Linked DNA regions of Homo sapiens: region 2 is linked to region 1. Evidence: fine-mapped expression QTL. A gene starts in region 1. The other region holds a variant in brackets. All regions are shown on one strand. Distances are from middle to middle.

Region 1 (5,372 bases):
ATCTCCCACCTCTATGCCCTGGCTCCTTTCCCATTTCTGGGCCAGGAACAGTGCCAAAGCCTTCATTAGGGGTGCAGGAATTAAGTGAGACAGCAACAATATTGGCATCGGCCTCCCTGAAAACCATCTTCTCAAGAACTCAGTTTCTGATCTTTCTTTCTAAGCCTGGCTCTTCCAGGAAGCCCTCCCCACTGCCCATAATACTGTGCCACCAGCCGGGCGTGGTGGCTCACGCCTGTAATCCCAGCACTTCGGGAGGCCAAGGCGGGTGGATCATCTGAGGTCAGGAGTTTGAGAGCAGCCTGGCCAACATGGTGAAACCCTGTCTCTACTAAAAATACAAAAATTAGCCAGGTGTGGTCCCAGCTACTCAGGAGGCTGAGGCAGGAGAATCACTTGAACCCGGGAGATGGAGGTTGCAGTGAGCTGAGATCGCACCATTACACTCCAACCTGGGTGACAGAGGGAGACTCTGTCTGAAAATAAATAAATAAATAAATAAAAAGAAAAAAGAAAAAAATACTGTGCCACCTACACTTAGTTACAAGCCTGCCTCCTTCACCTGCCAGGGTATACCTTCAGGGTCAGGGCTGTGACTATTCCTAGCTCCCAGGATGGTGTCTGGTACTTAAGGGGAGCCTAATAGGTGTTCATGGAAAAATTTACTGCCCAGGATGGGAGAGGGGGTTGTCACAATGTGTGGATGTGTGTGTGTGTGTGTGTGTGTGTGTGTGTGTGTGTTTGAGAGGAGCTGTATCTCATTTCAGCCAAGGAGGCTGAGGCCAGAGTCCAGGGCACAGACCATGGCAGGGCCTAGTCCAGCATCCCCAGTCCCACCCTGGTCCCCCTGAGGCTATGATTAACCCTTGTCCTCAGCACAAGGACAGAGCCTCATCTGCCAGCCAGTCTTGGCCATGTGGGGAAGTAGGTCAGGGGCTTCAGAATCCGGATAGCTGCTGCACATCAGGGCAAAGCCAGCCCTCTGGAGCCTTGTGGATGGAGACCAGGGTGTGGGCACACCACAGCAGGCCACAATGGCACAAACTGCAGCAGACTTATGTCCACACCCCCCAGCTTGCTGGAGGCCATGGGAAGGTCACTTCTCCCTGGACATGTTTCCTCGCCCCTTCCAGCTCTCACCATCCAAGAAGGAGGCATCTTAGGGGAGGAGAGGATAGAACTGACTCCACTCCAGCAGGCCTCCTCTTCCTTTCTGTCCCAACAGCCCCACCCCCCACTCCCAGTGATGTCATTTCGGCCACCTCATCACCAGCTTCTAACCCCCTTCCAGTCGCCCTTTCTGTCCTCAGATGGCAACTGGGGGCAGCGGAGATGTATCCCTCTTTATTCGGTCTCTCGCCTGGCACACTGGCCGGGATTCCCGAACCTGACCCCCTCCAAACCATGAGCCATTTGCAAGGGGACCGGGCAGGGGAGGGCTAAGCGACTCCTGACTCTCGAAGGCAGATGGGAGACTTGACTTTCTGCTTCTTCACCAGCAAAGACGCGGTACCACTTCTCCCTGAGTAGGAAGCGAGTTAGGGAAACTTTCTAGGAGTCTTAGAGCTCATAATTCCTGTCAGGGACGGGTGCTGCTGGATTTGGCGTGAGATAACTTCCCTCTACACACAAGCCACCCTCCCAGCAAAACATGACGAAGGAGCCGCCTCCCGGCCTCAGAAGACTCCTAGCTAGCGCTCAGGCCCCGTAACAATACCAGGGGCGGCCGAGCAGTTGCTGCCTCCAGGACGGGGTGGGCGAGCTGGATGACGGATGCCCGGTCGTCTGGGAAAATAGGAAGACCGCCCCCCGCCCCCCACTTTTGCAGGTCTCCGCCCGTCCGGTCCGCGTCTTCTCCGGCAGCGCCCCCTCTCTCCACGTCCCGGTTCTCCAGACGCGTCCCTCCTCCGAGTCGGGCGCGCCCGGTCCAGCCCAGCCCCTCCCGGGGTGATAGCGCCCAACAATGGAGAAGCGGACAGGGGTCACCGGGCGCTCCCCGCCTTCCTGTCCCGGTCGCCCCCGCGCTCACCCTGCTCCAGGTCCTGCTGGTCGTACCAGGACTCCTCTTCCTCCGCGGAGAAGTCCTCCATCCCGGCGGCTCTCCGCATGGCCCCGCGGGCGGCGGGCGGGTGCTGCGGCGGCGCAGCTCAGGGCCGGTGCGCGCGGCCCGGGACAATGCGGCTGAGGCGGGCCGGGCCTCCAGCGTCGGGAACTCGGGCTACAGAGCCCGCGCCGCGCCCCCTCGCCATCAACCGCTCGCCGGGAGCCCACGCGGGGCCTGGCGCTTTGCCAGGGTCCGGCCCGGCCGGGGTCCCGCAGAGCCGGGGGCACCGGGCTGCGGCGACACAAAGGGTGGAGTGGCAGGGACGGCGGGTGGGACAGTGGCAAGGAGGATCCGGGCCCGCAGGCGGGTCTGGGGCGCTAGGAGCGCGCGGGTGCCGTGGCGGGCGCCCCCTGCCCGGCTCGGGTCCGCGCTGCTCCTGGCCCGCCCGGCGACAACCGGAGCCGCCGCTGCATCTTGGCGGAGCCCGCCTGCAGCTTGCGGAGCTCGGCTCCGCGGGGTGGGGCCTGCCGCCGCCGACCAATCAGGAGATGTATGCAAAGCTGGAGGCGGGGCCGAGGGCGGGACCCTCCTGGTGTCTTGGTCTGGGAATTGCTTGATCAACCCTTTCGTCCTACTTCCCCCTACGACCTATTCAGTTTATGTCTCATGTCTAAAATTATGCTATTTTAGAAGTTGTCGTCTCTCCTAGATCTCCTGGAAGCAAGAATATTGTTTCTCTTTCACAGCTGGCTACTCACTTCCTAGAACAGGCTGCTCACCAGTCGGGCGCGATGCCTGACTCCTGTAATTCCAGCACCTTGGGAGGCCAAGGCGGGCAGATCGCCTGAGGTCAGGGGTTTCGAGACCAGCCTGGCCAACATGGCGAAACCCCGTCTCCATTAAAAATACAAAAATTAGCTGGGCATGGTGGCGCATGCCTACTCGGGAGGCTGAGGCAGGAGAATCGCTTGAACCCTGGAGGCAGAGGTTGCAGTGAGCCAAGATAGCGCCACTGCACTCCAGCCTGGGCGACAGAGGGAGACTCTGCCTCAAAAAACAAACAAACAAAAAACAAACAACATGCTGGTCATTGATACCTTCCATCGACATTCTTTGAATGAATGAATACTAATTTACAGTTGCCTTTGGGAACTGCGTGTTTAAGTGCTTGTGGCTAGAAACCACAGGCTGAAAGTGGCAAAGTTTGAGGGTGTGTTACCTGCATTCAAGGTTCTGTTTTCCTTTCCTTGGGACCCATATCCTATATCCAATTATACCCATTAAAACTATACACACTTGCATCTGTCCAAGCATTCTTTCCTTAGAAGAGTGTTCGGACTCAAGCATTCACGTAACTCATTTTTATTGGGACCCTAATGTGCTGGTGCCGTTGAGAATCTCTGAATAATGTTGTGATATACCCAACGAATGACTTGTATCCAGAATACAGAAAGAACATCTGCATAGTCATAAGAAAAAGGCACGCAACCCAGTAGAAAAGTGGGTAAAAGATTTGACCAGGTAATTCACAAAAAAGGATACACAAATAACTGAATAAATATGCAACAAGGTACTGAACTTCTTTAGCCATCAGAAAAATGCAAATGAAAACCACAATGAGGTATCACTACCCAATCACCAGAGTGGCTTTAGGGAAAAAAAAAAAAAAAAAAAAGGCCAGGCGTGGTGGTTCATGCCTATAATCCCAGAACTCTGGGGAGGCCGAGGTTGGGAGGATCACTTGAGCCTGGAGTTCAAGAGCAGCCTGGGCAACATAGCAAGATCCTATTTCTATAAAAAAATTTAAAAATAAAAATTAGGTGGGCATAATGACACACGGCTGTAGTCCCAGATACTTTGGGAGGCTGAGGTGGGAGAATTGCTTGAGTCTAGGAGGTTGAGGCTGTAGGGAGCTGTGGTCATGCCACTGCACTCCAGCCTGGGTGACAGAGCAAGATCCTGTCTCAAAAAAAAAAAAAAAAAAAAAAAAAAAAAGACAAAAAATACCTAGTATTGGCAAGAATGTTGAGCAACTGGAACTCTCTCACCCTGCTGGAGGGAATACATAGGACGACAACCACTTTAGAAAACTGCCCGGGCGTGGTGGCTCATGCCTGTAATTCCCAACGCTTTGGAAGGCCAAGGAGGGTGGATCGCTTGAGGTCAGGAGTTCAAGACCAGCCTGGGAAACATGGTGAAACCCTGTCTCTACTAAAAATACAAAATTAGCTGGGCATGGTGGCACATGCCTGTAGTCCTAGCTACTTGGGAGGCTGAGGCAGGAGAATTGCTTGAACCTGGGAGGCGGAAGTTGCAGTGAGCTGAGATTGCGCCACTGCACCCAGCCTGGGCGATAGAGCAAGACTGCGTCTTGGAAAAAAAAAAAAAAAAGACTGCTTGATAACCATGAAAGCTGAATAACGTAAGCTGTTGTAGGTTGTGTTCCCAGGCAGCTGATCCTGAGATGGAGATTAGCATGCAGGAAGTTGATTAGGGATATCAATCATATTGGATTAGAGGGAGAAAAAAGAAAGAAAGTTGACTAGGGAGTGCTCTCATGATCAACACCTGCAGGAAAGGGAGGGAAGCAGGGTTGGTGGGGGAGAAGCTGGGTTGGTATGTAGCCTCTGCAAAAGCCTCCTCTGATCCCTGAAGAACTTTGAATCCAGGGTGACCCTTCAAAGCTATTCCAGGTATCATTGGGGGAGGGGGCCTTTATATCCCCCACCCTTACATATCAACCAGTCATTGAATGACACAGGTCGTTCCTAGGAGGCATGTGTGACCTTGGCCAAATAAGTTCTTTTCAGCTGAGACTAGTTTGCACAGAGCCCTGGCAGCTGGGACTGCCAGCCAGGGGTCCTCCCAGCAGCTAAGGGAATAGGTCCTTTCGTTCTGAAAGAGTTGGGGATACATCACAGCAGCCACTATACATGCATACCCTATAACCCAGAAATTCTATTCCTATATATGTGCAAGAGAAATATGCACATACCTTATCCCAAAGACATGTACAAGAAAGTTCATAGCCACAGTATTCATAAGCGCCCACACTGGAAACAACACAAATGTCCATCAACAGTTGACGAAGAATATGTGGCATGTTCATGTAATGGAATGTTATATAGTACAAATACAATGATCTACTGTCATGGGCTTGGGCTAAAAAAAAAAAGTTGAGTGAAAGATGCCAGACACAAAGAGTAAATACCTGTATTTGTCTCTTATTGCTTCTGTAACAAATGACCCCAAATTTAATGGGCTTGAAACAACACAAATTTATTATTTTATAATTCTGTAGAAGTCTGACAAGGATCACTGGCTAAAG
Region 2 (5,372 bases), 33 kb before region 1:
CCAGGAGGCAGAGCTTGCAGTGAGCCGAGATCGCGCCGCTGCACTCCAGCCTGGGCGACAGAGCAAGACTCCTCTCAAAAAAAAAAAAATAATAAAATAAATTTAAATAAGCAAAATGTCTTTCACTTTATCCCATTGTTACCCTGGTTCTTCCGAGCGCTCAGCTTTCCTGCCGAGCTTCTTTTAGACGCCTTTGGGTGTCCTTTGACGATGTGTTCTCCGCTTTCACACGCTCTAGCGTTCCTTCACCAGGGTCTTTGTCACCCCACGTTGGGCAGCCAGGAATGTTGAGGTGATCAGACCCAACACCAGGTCATGGGGGCAACAAAGTCCGGCGGAGTCAAAGGAATTAGAAAAAGACAGTTTGAGAGAGAAAGTAGCACCAGGAAGCCATCGCCAGTGTTGAGGCTGTGAAGACCCCCAGCTCTGGGAGCCCACGGTATTTATTGGTGCTCAAAGAAACAGGTGGTGAGGATGTGGGGGTTGAAAAGAAAGTGTATCAAGTGAAGGAGAAACATACGGCTGCTTGAGAGAATGGGAGTGCTAGAAGCAAGGAGCCAGCAAGTCTAGCAGACATGCAAGCCCTGCCTCAGCTTCTCTCCCAACACTCAGCTTTTCTCCCAACGCTCAGCTTTTCTCCCAACAGCTTTCTGTTACCCACATCTCTTAAAACCTTTGCCGGGTGCAGTGGCTCACGCCTGTGATACCAGCACTTTGGGAGGCCGAAGTGGGCGGATCACCTGAGGTCAGGAGTTCAAGAGCAGCCCAGCCAACATGGTGAAACCCCATCTCTACAAAAATACAAAAATTAGCTGTGCATGGTGGCATGCACCTGTAACCCCAGCTACTGGGGAAGCTGAGGCAGGAGAATCGCTTTAACCTGGGCGAAGGAGGTTGCAGTGAGCCAAGATCACGCTATTGCACTCCAGCCTGGATGGCAGAGTGAGACTCCATCTCAAAAATAAAAGAACCTAAACTCCTTAACTTGAATTCAAGGCTCTCCACATCAAGCCGGTCTCTCTCTGGGTTCACCTCCCGCTGCAATGGTGGATCACCCTGCACGAATCCACCATTCAGTGCCTTTGCCTTCTTTGTCACCCCCTCCACCTCAGCCTCTTTTGTCTCTTGTGTTCATTGTTCCCTTCAAATGGCATGTCCGCCTCCCGTCTACTGATGAAAGTCCCATGCCTTTTCCATAGCCCGGCTCAAATGCCCACTTACCTGTCTCAGCCCTCCTACCTGGTTGTGTGTGTAGTTTCTTTTTGTTTTGTTTTTGAGACGGAGTCTGGCTCTGTTGCCCAGGCTGGAGTGCAGTGGTGTGATTTTGGCTTACTGCAACGTCACCCTCCTGGGTTCAAGCAATTCTCCTGCCTCGGCCCGAGTAGCTGGGATTACAGGTGCCCACCACCTATTTTAGTAGAGATAGGGTTTCACCACGTTGGCCAGGCTGGTCACCTCAGCCTCCCAAAGTGCTGGGATTACAGGTGTGAGCCACCACGCCCGGTGGTTTTTTTTTTTTTTTGAGACACGGTCTTGCTCTGTCACTCAGGCTGCAGTGGTGCAATTATGGTTCACTGCAACCTTGAACTCCTGGGGGGCTCAAGTGATCCTCCTGCCTCAGCCTCCCAAGTTGCTGGGACTATGGACATGTATCACCACACCTGGCTAATTTTTGTAGTTCTTGTAGAGATGAGATCTTGCTATGTTGCTCAGGCTGGTTTTGACCTCCTGACCTCGTGTGATCCTCCTGCCTTGGCTTCCAAAGTGTTTGGATTACAGGCGTGAGCCACCACGCCTGGCCTGTGTGTTCTTTCACAGCAGACACCAGAACCCTTTCCTGTTCCCCAGTGCTGTGTCGATAACTGTGCGGCTGATTTAACTGAGAGAAAAGGTAGGAATTGTTTTCTGAAGCATTCTGAATGAGAAGGGAAGCCTAATGAGTTCTGATTTTTATTGTGACTAATACATGAGGTGCATTATTAAGGTTTGACAACATGGTGACTGCCTATAAAGACGTCTGCAACCAGTGCCTGCAGCCTTCATTCCAAATGAACATTCTTGTGATGGCTCCAATGTTATAGACAAGCATTAACAGCCAAAAAGAAAAACAGAAATCTCCTTATGGTGTGAAAGTCCTCTCAGCTGCAGCTGCCCGGACGCCCAGAAGAGCCCTCCCAGCTGCAGAGGGTGATTTCAGTCCATGTCGACCCTCCTGCTTGTCTTTACAGCAGAATGAATTCTCTTTTGTCTCAGCCTTTCCCGATTCATGTTTTCTATCCTGAAAACAAAAAGACTGCAATTAGCCCCAGATGCCCAATCAGTGCTTTTCAAAGTGGTGAGAGGAGTTGGGAGCTCAACGGGAAGCCGAGCAGTTACACCAGCAGGCACTAGCCCGCAGGCCTCGGTCCCAGGTCAGCATCCTCTCCTCTTCCTAGAGTTTCTCCCAAGGCCGGCCTTGGACTCTCCCCTGCCCCTTCCTTACCTGTGTAGACTCTTGTCCACACAAATCAGTTTATAGCATCTTAGGGCATTTCCTGGTACCTGATTCTATGAAGTTTAACATCTTCTTTTGTTGGCTCCTTCGGTGTCTGGCTGGCCTCAGTGATCATGTCTCGAATTTTCTGCAGGCAATCTGCCAGATTCCGGAACTGATAGCGGCTGCTCTCAGAGGTGAGGATCAACTCTCCTAACCTGTTGATCTTGTTTTTATGCTGCAGAGAACAAATGAAAAACTGGAGTCCTACAGAGTAAAGGTTTAAAAGCCACTGAGGGATTTCTAGGGAAAGAAAGGGATGGTGGTTACC[G/A]TGATGGCTATCTTCTGCCGCACGGGCTCCGCGATCCACTCGGCAGTTGCCAAATGGAACCTGACTTCTGCCTTGGAATTCACTGTGGAGGAAAGGGAGAAGGGAGCATGGGTGCCTGAGACTTCCAGGAAGGATCAACCCCTGGGTGACCAGTGACCATTCTGAAATAAAGGGAGGCCAGACACCTAACCATGTACATTGTAGCCTATGTCCAAGTTGGCTATGAACAAGCCCGCAAAGACAGTGAGGCACTTTTGGGCAAAAATAGACTTCCAGTAACTAAGCACCCAGTCCTTCTCTTACAGTTTTACTGGGTTCAAAAAAAAAAAAAAAAAAAATGGAGGGAATGGGTTGCACCAGAATGAAAGAAACCTGTTCTTGGAGCTGGCTGCCACCTCACAACTGTGATTTCTCTTTGTTTAGACTCACAAGCCGATCCTAGTCCTAGCAACCCACAGCTGAATGTCTGAGAATCAGACCACATTCAAAAGAATAAAGAGGATTATTATAAGCTGGCAGTATTAAAGCTTCTGCTGAAAAATCCCTTTATTCCATATGAACACAAACACAGAGCTCCTCAAGCCCATCTCCCAGCTACATTTTAAAGCAAAAGAAAGCAACAAGGCACCCCGTACCTTTGTTCACATTCTGCCCCCCAGGACCACTACTCCGACAATAAGATATTGTCAAGCGATCTGTAAAACAGAAGAAAGTACACACACAAAACTGATTACCTCATGGCATGAAAAGCAGTCTTGTTGTGTCTGAGGAATGTAGGGAAGGTATTATATTGGGAAAATTTCAAAAACTGCAAGAAGTTTGGGTGGCAAGGAACTGTGGCACCACGGTGGCAGAGAGCTGGTCCCAGTGAGCAGTAGTGACTCATCTTGGGACTGCTTTTAAGAGGATTTCCTCCTTTGGAAAAATCAAATTAAATCCACTTTCTGACTAGGTAACAAGTACACGTGCCACTGCAGGGGAACAGTTCTGCCATGGTGATTGCTGGCAACCTTGCACATGGCCAAAGCTTGAGCTGCAGCTGACCAAAGTCTTCATAGGAATGGAACGCTTCGGGATCCATGAGAGTGTGGGAGGCTGGTGAGGAGCTACTACCGAGCTACTGCCCACTTGCCTGCCTGTCTCCCCCTAGGAGGCTGTCACAAGACACTTCTCTTCGCCTCCAGTTCTGATGAGATAGGAGGCTTTCTGCCTCCTCCCCTACACACATGCACCCCTTAGGGCACAGCTTCATTTTTTTTTTTTTTGAGACAGGGTCTCACTCTGGCACCCAGGCTGGAGTCCAGTGGCACAATGACGGCTCACTGCAGCCTCAACATCCCAGGCTGAAGCGAACATCCCGGGCTCAAGGGATCCTTCCACCTCAGCCTCTCAAGTAGCTGAGACTACAGGCGGGCACAGCTTCAAGCTACAAAACTGCTTCACTGCAGCATGGTATTCGCTCCTCAGCCACAGGGTGTCCTGTCCCTTGGGTTGTGGTCATCTGGCCTCTGTTTGAGTCATCTTGAGCAAGGGCCACAGGGAGCCAGCATCTTTGGCTGCTCTTCCTCGCACTGTCTATGGAAGTCATACACTCTCCGAATCTAAAAAAGGCTCATTGTTTCTTTACAGGCTGTAACTGTTAGGCCTTGCTTATGCTTGACAGGTAAAAAATTTTACAGTTATGTAAATGGTTTATTTACATGGAAATGTCTTTCACTCTTGTCTCTCAGCCACCAAGTTTGTCTTATCTCTCTATTCCTCCAGGCAGTCACTGTATCCAGGGTGTTCCTTTCAGATATAGATATCTCTCTACACAGATAGGGATATAAATATAGATACAGATATTCAGAAATAGATATTTCAGGCTGGGCACGGTGGCTCACACCTGTAATCCCAGCACTTTGGGAGGCTGAGGTGTGCAGATCATGAGGTCAGGAGATCGAGACCATCCTGGCTAACATGGTGAAACCCCGTCTCTACTAAAAAATACAAAAAATTAGCCGGGCGTGGTGGTGGGAACCTGTAGTCCCAGCTACTCGGGAGGCTGAGGCAGGAGAATGGTGTGAACCTGGGAGGCGGAACTTGCAGTGAGCCGAGATCGGGCCACTGCACTCCAGCCTGGGTGACAGAGCGAGACTCCATCTCAAAGAAAAAAAAAAAAGATATTTCAGAGATATAGATATGTAAAAAACAAATGGTAGCTTATAAACTCTCCTGTGTCTTCCTCTTTCAATTCATCTATTGTAAAGAGTGCTCCACGTCATGAGAATGTCAAGAGCTCTACACTCACGTGGCACACGGCACAGTACGATGCGACTGGCCACACCATCATTTATTTGCTATTCTAAATAATGCTGCAAAGATTCTACTTCTGCACACCCGAGATAGTCTCTTTACTTTAATTGGGCTGGAGAGATCTGGAAGGAATGTGTGAAGGATTAGAGAAATGACTGATTTTTTTTTTTTCGTCTGAGACAGAGTCTCGCTGTGTCGCCCAGGCTGGAGTGCAGTGGTGCGATCTCAACTCACCACAACCTCTGCTTCCCAGGCTCAAGTGATTCTTGTGCC

What was found. PIP is the estimated chance that this variant, and not a neighbour inherited with it, causes the effect.
Region 2: its variant is fine-mapped to the expression of CDR2L in aorta (GTEx, PIP 0.96). The same link has a PIP of 0.9 or more in fibroblasts.

What each region holds. Positions count from the first base shown.
Region 1 is chr17:74,984,780-74,990,151 of GRCh38, reverse strand. It overlaps CDR2L (cerebellar degeneration related protein 2 like), which reads right to left and starts at 2,520. Exons shown (of 5, transcript NM_014603.3): 1 at 2,030-2,520. The coding sequence starts at 2,108. LOC124904058 (a long non-coding RNA gene) reads right to left here. Exons shown (of 2, transcript XR_007065906.1): 2 at 5,303-5,372. RefSeq lists silencers at 2,425-2,514, 2,535-2,614 and an enhancer at 2,181-2,682.
Region 2 is chr17:75,017,827-75,023,198 of GRCh38, reverse strand. It overlaps MRPL58 (mitochondrial ribosomal protein L58), which reads right to left. Exons shown (of 6, transcript NM_001545.3): 3 at 3,440-3,499; 4 at 2,804-2,886; 5 at 2,542-2,711; 6 at 1,938-2,278. The coding sequence ends at 2,194. Among named protein-coding and RNA genes, the nearest start is that of MRPL58, 7.8 kb to the right of the region's middle. RefSeq lists an enhancer at 2,172-3,371. The variant G/A (reference allele first, on the strand shown) is at 2,805.